Homo sapiens: one gene and its partner. The protein of the gene in region 1 purifies or fractionates together with the protein of each later gene. This does not show direct contact. Each region holds a gene or a part of one and is shown in the gene's direction. Other genes may lie near its edges.

The links.
Region 2: the proteins of MEIS1 (region 1) and CRTC1 purify together in Homo sapiens (affinity purification with western blotting; one study listed by BioGRID and IntAct). This does not show direct contact.

Annotation. Positions count from the first base shown.
Region 1 is NC_000002.12:66,441,480-66,445,290, forward strand, and holds part of MEIS1 (homeobox protein Meis1), read left to right. Parts: intron 1-1,422; coding exon 1,423-1,569; intron 1,570-3,811. UniProt on the Homo sapiens protein: Acts as a transcriptional regulator of PAX6. Acts as a transcriptional activator of PF4 in complex with PBX1 or PBX2. Required for hematopoiesis, megakaryocyte lineage development and vascular patterning.
Region 2 is NC_000019.10:18,766,988-18,770,798, forward strand, and holds part of CRTC1 (CREB-regulated transcription coactivator 1), read left to right. Parts: intron 1-1,497; coding exon 1,498-1,806; intron 1,807-3,811. UniProt on the Homo sapiens protein: Transcriptional coactivator for CREB1 which activates transcription through both consensus and variant cAMP response element (CRE) sites.

The DNA of each region.
Region 1 (3,811 bases):
TCTTTTCCTTTTACTTACCCCTTACCCCCAAACACACAGGGGGGAGGGTTCCGAATGGCTGAAGTTCAGCCTTCTGATACATTTGCATAAATGTCTTTCTTTCTGGTAATTAGTGTCAAGGCCAATCTTAGCGTCCATTTCTCTTCGCAGTTTAATTACAATTTCAGCCACTAAAACTGGGATCACAAACGCCCTAGCCTTGTGTTCATTCTTAATAACTTGCTGGCTTTGTGTAAATAGTTGCAATTCTGTGCATCCCAGCTGATGTTTCGAATGCTGCTCTGAGGTTGTTTCACAAGTTCATACCTCTGTTGTCTCTTCTCATCCTCTTCCTTCTCTTCTTTGCTACCTCTGAGGGAGAAAAAAGTTTTATTCAGTTGTAGTGAGTTTCTGGAAGACAGTCTTGAGAGCAAGGGCAGATCAGACACAGGGGAGAGGCAGAAGGGGAGAAGGAGGAGGAGCGGGAAGGAGTCTGGAGGAGGTGGTGGGGAGGCACATTAAACGTTTTGCAGAGACAAAGCAGAGTTGATAGTTGTGTCAATTTCTTGAATCTGTGAATCCTGCACACACTCCACCTTCACACTCAAGAAAGGGTGTGGGATAACATGATTTTGCTAGCTGTTCTATAAATCTCAGCAATAAAAACTTAATGCATTGTAATTCAAACTAACATTAAATTGCAAGCACACTGGGGTTTCTTGTGAATTTTTGCATGTCAGTGATGCCTGGGACCTCTAGGAAACCTCTGCACTTACACTTAAATATTTTGAGGCATTCCTTCTCCTTTTTGTAAAAAAAAAAAAAAAAAAAAAAAATCAATTTGATATGTTTTTGTGTGGCTGTATGTTTTCCCATATCAGGAGTACTGGCAACTTGATTTCCTTCCATTTTTTTTTCAAAGAAAGTTTTCTAAAATATACCCCTTAGAGATAAAAACCTTCATTACAAATATAATAAGGACTTGGGTTGTCAGGCATTTATCCTATGCCACCACAGTACAGGTTCTTTGGAGAATATATATGTGCATATATACACACGTATACATTTTTTTCTTAGACACATTAGAAAGGGATTTATGATAAAGTCACTGGATGAAATTAAATAGTTTACCTTAAATGTCACCTACGCAGGTCACCTCTCTAATGACCACAGCCCCAGGAGCAGATGAATTTAACACGGGTGTTGAATATGTTGTAGCCTGTGAATCATCTTGTCACTGTCAATTTTCTGGGATATCTCTATTTTGCAAGAAAAGAAAGTTATTCCTAATTCTGGATGCGTCTGGGGGTCTCTGGAGGACAATTGCCCTGTGTTTCCCCTATTTGGAAGTTTGGATCTCACAAGGGGGGTGGATTGCACTTGTCAATGTCATTTATGCACTCCTGATTATATTCCCATTTTTTTATTTCTGTCATAATGTAGGTACACGAATTATGTGACAATTTCTGCCACCGGTATATTAGCTGTTTGAAAGGGAAAATGCCTATCGATTTGGTGATAGACGATAGAGAAGGAGGATCAAAATCAGACAGTGAAGATATAACAAGATCAGCAAATCTAACTGACCAGGTATGCGCTTTTCAATTTCAACATCCCTGGGAAAAAAAAAAATCTGTATGCATATTGCTTGCTGGGTCACTACCACCTCCTTTTATTATTTGCATATGATTAAGTCCCTTTTAGATACATTTCCATCGAAATGAAAATTTTTGAATAATGTGGCTATTATTGCTTCATTAAGGCTGGCTCTGGGATTCGACCTGAAGAGATGAGCTTGTAAAAGCTTTGCTAGCAAACTTGACCTGTTTCTTGTCGCTTTTAATTTTTGTCTTTATTTTATTTACCCTCTATAATAATGGGAGTGTTAACTGCCAGTGACCGCCTCTGATTGTAGGGGCTTTGTTCCGGAGCATTTTTCCCCCTTCTATCTTCAAGAAAAGACAAGTGTAGGGTCTGCTTATTTCTTATTTTATTAGGAATAAATCCAAGATAGGTGGTCTAAGAAAGACAGCGAGAGTTTGAAATCTAGCAAATGCTGGCTATTTTCTCCCTGTCTGTACGGTTCATTAGCCTGTCTTGTCAGTTTTCCTCGGCCGAACGCTTCTAGACCTCACTGAACATTGCTTTGTGTGGTGTTCACTGCAAGCTCACCCATTTTATTGTACTTAATAGAAAAAATAAGACCAGGCCGAGGTTATAAAAACAGATAAATATGGACTTTTCTCCTCCTTCTTTCCACTCATCCTCCAGCTGGTATGTGCTCTGGGCCCTCTGGGTTGGCAGCTTGTGGACATATCAGCATCAGGGGCACCCCGGCGGCTCCCTGGGTAAGGAGTGTGGGGGACCTCGCACCGCCTTTGCTCTCAACTGAGGGCCTTGGCTTGCTGCACCCTCTCCTCTCCTGTCTTCCCTCCAGGCCCTTCTTCCGATGCGTTACTAAGTGGGGACGACTTTTATTTGGAATTGCTGTGGGGATTTCTCTCTCTCTGTCACCCCAACACCACCGTTTGCTCCCAGGGTGCCTCTCTCTCTCCTGTGGCTGTATCTCTGGATTGGTCCAAAGGAGTTGCAAAAATGCAATGAAAGTGAAAACGTGTAGAGTGAGTGAGATGAAACAGGGCTCAGAACAGTTCCGTTGCGAATTGTTGCAAGGCGTCTAGAGATTTGGGTAGCTGGCCTGCTCTGCACCCTCCCACCCTTCCCCCCTATATAAGTGAAGTCCCAGTGTTGTTTCTCTTTCTGACTCGGCACGTGAGTCCAGATTTGGGGGAAGAGATCAGCCTGCCTTTGTTAAGCCAAAGGCCAGCTACTCTGCAAGCTCTGCCATGATCTCTGTTGGCCAGTGGCTGTCTTGTACAGTCCTTGTCGAGCGCCTGACGCCTGGTTCTTAGTGTCATCTTATGGTTTTCTTCTCTCAACATCATCCTCTTAAAATACATTCTCAGCTTGATTTTCTCTGGGCAATCCCCGCGACATGGGCTGAATTCCTCTTTTGCCCATGGGGAGCGAGAAACAGGCAGAGCAGAGATTTAAAAGTGCCAATGCGCCGGGTCCGCACTGTGATCTGGAGAGTTGGAAACTTTCGGCAGTGTAGTCCATTGCACAGAACACGCAGCGTGCGCAATCCCAGTGCGGCCCCACAGAAGTGGGAAAACTGCAGGCGGCTCCCAGCCTTGGCCCCCGCGGGCGGCCCGGGCCTCACGTCTGGTTCAGCCCGCCAGCCCTGGCCCGGGAGCTGTTGAGTGCCGATTCTGCTGAGGAACCCTCGAGTAGCTGCTGTGGAATAAAAATTGCAATCCAACAAGCCTAACTGGAAAATGGGATTCTAAAAGCTCCGGAGTGCTGGGTACATAAAGCTATTTGAGCAAATTACAAGAATCGCTTAGGGGCATGAATGAAATCAACACTTTAATTGCCTCCAAAATGAAGATTTATACCCCATTTTCTCAAGGAATCATTATTTTATTAAAGTCAAAGATAAAAGACCAAAGTTATGGGAATTTTTTGGAGGGGGGAGAGAGAATACAAAAATTAATATAATATCATGGAGCTCCCCCCTTCTCCTTCCCTAAACTTTTGTTACCCAATTCCCTTCAGATATGCAAATATTGGTATGCAATTGTATCGGATAAAACTTCTCATTTTATTGTCTTCTACCTCTAAAATGAGAATCTGACTTCTGGTCCCCGCTGGTTAAGAGTGGGCTTCGAAGCTTTGGCTGAGCTCGTGGCGCTGTTGGCCTATGCGCCTGGGCTCGCTTGTGTGACCCCCTGGGGCTCACCCAAGTTTCAGCTGGTCGGAGGACAGCAAA
Region 2 (3,811 bases), on another chromosome or scaffold:
GCAGCCACCTGTGTCTTAGCTCAAATGTGTTGGGAAGTTTCCAATCTCATCTCCTTCTTATAAGGCTATTCAGGTTTTCTGTTTTTTCTTGAGTCAGTTTTGGTCATTTGTGCATTTCTAGAAATTTATCCATTTTGTCTTTTTAAAAACAAAACAAAAAAACCCTAACAGAGAACTTTGACATTTTTAAAATTTTTTTATTTTTTAATTTTAATTTAATTTTTTTTTTGAGACAGAGTCTCACTCTGTCGCCCAGGCTGGAGTGCAGTGGCGTGCTCTTGGCTCTCCTGCAGCCTCTGCCTCCCAGGTTCAAGCGATTTTCGTGCTAGCCTCCCAAGTAGCTGGGATTACAGGCATGTGCCTACCATGCCCAGCTGAGTTTTGTATTTTTAGTAGAGACAGAGTTTCGTCTTGTTGACCAGGCTGGTCTCAAACTCCCAACCTCAAGTGATCACCCTGTCTCAGCTTTCCGAAGTGCTGGGATTGCAGGTGTGAGCCACCGCGCCCGTCACTTGTTTGTTTTTAATGTAACCACAGTGGCATTGTCCACCTACAACGAAGTTAATGGTAGTTCCTTGGTACCTGGCAATGCCCGGCCCGGACTCCATTTCTCCCCGCCCCTCGGCCCCCATGTCTCCTGTCTGCTTACAAAGGTGTCTTATTCAGATCAAGATCCAGACAGAGCTGTGGGCGCTGGCTCCTGGCAGCTGTGTCTTCAGCCACTTTGTGAGCTAGGCTGTCTTAATCTGACACCTGCCCCTTCCCTCTATCTGGAAACTCCTTTCTCTTCACAAATGACCCACTGGTCCTCAGAGGCCGGGCATCCTGCTAAGTGGTTTTTGTTCCATAGCTCCTGGGCACGCTCAGCCTTTCTTAGAGGGCAGGGACCCCACCTTTCCCAAGGACTGTCAGCTTGGTAGCCCCTGGCTGTGAGTTTCCACACAGACAGTGAACGTCACACACTTCCCTCTTATTGATTTTCCTCTTTCCAGCTCTGCGAAGGCCTGAGCCAGCCCTTGGTGAGGGGCCATGCTGGTATCTCCAGCAACCCCAGCCTCTCCAGCATCCCCAGAGTGGGCAAGGCTTTGGGCGGGGGGGTTTGGGAAGGCAAGGCCAGTGGATCACTTGAGGTTTCCCCGCAGCACCCACAGGGGCTGGGAGCTGGCTGCTCACTGAGCCACCAGGGATGGCCATCCTGGGCTTGCCCTGCAGCTGGTGGACTGGCCTGAGCTGCACGGCATGTAGTGCGGGTGCAGGCACAACAAGCTGGAGGAGGTCAGGTCCTGCCCAGCTCCAGCTGACCCCCTTGGGGCCCTGCGTGAGGCCCACCCTCTCTAGCCTGGGCTCCCTCATCGTGAGGAGCACCCAGCCCAGGGGCTGCCTGTGATCACAGGGCCCTTCCACCTCGCCTGCTGAGCATGCCAGGCTATGGGGGCCCGAGGGGGCCAGGCGCTGACAACCAGGGCCCGCCCTGCCTGACGCTCTCCTCTCCTGCAGGCTGTAGCCATGGACGCCCTGTCTCTGGAGCAGCAGCTGCCCTACGCCTTCTTCACCCAGGCGGGCTCCCAGCAGCCACCGCCGCAGCCCCAGCCCCCGCCGCCTCCTCCACCCGCGTCCCAGCAGCCACCACCCCCGCCACCCCCACAGGCGCCCGTCCGCCTGCCCCCTGGTGGCCCCCTGTTGCCCAGCGCCAGCCTGACTCGTGGGCCACAGCCGCCCCCGCTTGCAGTCACGGTACCGTCCTCTCTCCCCCAGTCCCCCCCAGAGAACCCTGGCCAGCCATCGATGGGGATCGACATCGCCTCGGTAAGCCCAGGGTGGGGTCCCTCGGGGCCTGACTGGGGGTCTTGTAGAGGACAGCCCGGGGGCTGCAGAACAGTCGGGTTACCTGCTGCATGGGCCAGGGGTCAGAACCCCAGCGAACGCTGCCTGGGCCCACCTCTCCACGGGGCTACCCCTTGGAATCAAACTGAGACTGTCACTCCCTGTAGAGATGGAGAAACTGAGGCACGAGCAGGTGGCTGGCCCCAGATTCCACCCAAGGTGGGCCACCCCATGTTTAACTGCCGAGCACCCCTTCTTGGCCTCTCTGGCCCCTCCCACCTGAAGCCAGGCTTCCTAGGAGGCAAGAAGAGTACGGCGTTCTCAGGGCCAGGGCGCAGGCCGGGGGCCGGGGATGACGTGAGCTTATCAGAGAAGGAAAGACGAGGCCAGTCCAAGAGGCGGCAGCCCGTTGGGCACAGCGCCTGGGGCCCAGGGCTGGGGGCTGCAGCTCAGACCATTGGACTTTTCTGCCTAGGGCCGGCTCAGGCAGACAAAGGCTGGGCTTTAACCCTGTACCCACAAACCTTCCTGACTGTCCAGACCACCTGCTTGCTCCAGCGGCGCGGGCTGGGTGGCAAACAGCTGCATTGGGCCACATCCAGGGAAACAGGGACTTGTGTTCCGGGCACAATGAGTCCTCCCACTTGACCCCGACTGCCAGCCCCAGGCTAAATGTCCTCCAAACATTGTGTGCTCTGCAAAGAACAGCCGCCTGAGCTGGGTGGGGCAGGCAGGTGAGCCTGTGGGTAGACACCCATGTTCCCAAGCTGCTCTGACCTCACGGAGGGGACCACCCACGGCCCCTGGGTGGAAGAGTGCCCAAGTCCTTTCTTTGGTGGAAACACAGCAGGTCCTGGGGGAGGCTCCCAAGGTGGGGCCTCGCCTTGGAGCTGGGTGGTTCTTGGAGTCACAGGGTGTCTGGGCCAGGTGCAGGGACGGCCCTTCTAGGGCTCTTGGGTCAGGCTGTCCATGTCCAGCACCCTCACACAACAAAGACGGCTTCCTGCCCCCACTTCAAGGACTTCTAGCCTCCTGGGGTTGAGGGGGGACTCTTGAGTTTTTGCACAGACTCACCCAAATGAGAATCTCCCTCTGATCCCTTTGTCCTTTCCAACTCCAGGAAGGCCCAAGTCAGCCATCCCTAAGTAACAGTGCTGGCACCTCCATCACCCACGCAGGCGAGCTCACCGCCACCCCCCGCCCTACCCCACCCCGCCCCACCTGGACTCAAGCCCTACCCCAAACTGCCCAGAAGGCGCCACCAAGGACATGGGGGAGACAGCAATTATAGGCCCTGGACCGGTCAGGCTGGGCCTCATTCAGTGACTGGCTCAGACAGGTCAGGCAAGTTGTCTGCAGGCACACAGCATGGCTGGGCCGTGCTAGGACAAGAGAGTGGTCTGAATCCGGGGCCTGGCCTGGCCCGACCTGCCTCTGAAAGTTCTGGGTCATAGCAGTGAGATGCCCGGGCCTTTCGTCCCTCGAGCAGGTGGAGGAAGTGACTGCCCCTTGCAGGTCTCAGATGGCATAACCCAGGCAGGTTTGTCCTGCAGCAGGGCAGGGATAGTGACTGCGCCATGCTGGGAGCCTGGGCTACCAGCAAGATGGCCTTCACTCAGTCCCCACCCCCAGAGGTGGGCCAGACCTGCTGGGCTGCAGACTTAGGGGCTTAGAGAGCCAGGGGACCTGCCCAGGGCACACAGTCAGCGAGAGCCGGGAACAGGAGGCAGCCTTGGGTTTTCCCTGCCCATGGCGGTGTGTGTGTGTGGGTTGTGGGTGTGCACAAGTGGGTGGGTGCGGGTGTATGTGGTGTGCACCTGCATGGGTGTGCATGCATGTGAATGTGTGTGCATGTGTGCATGCGTGGGTATGTACATTTGTGGATGTGTGGACATTTGTGGATATGTGGACATTTGTGTGTGGATATGTGTGCTTGTGTGGGTGTGTGCACACGGTGTGTACATTTTGGTGTGTGAATATATGTGTG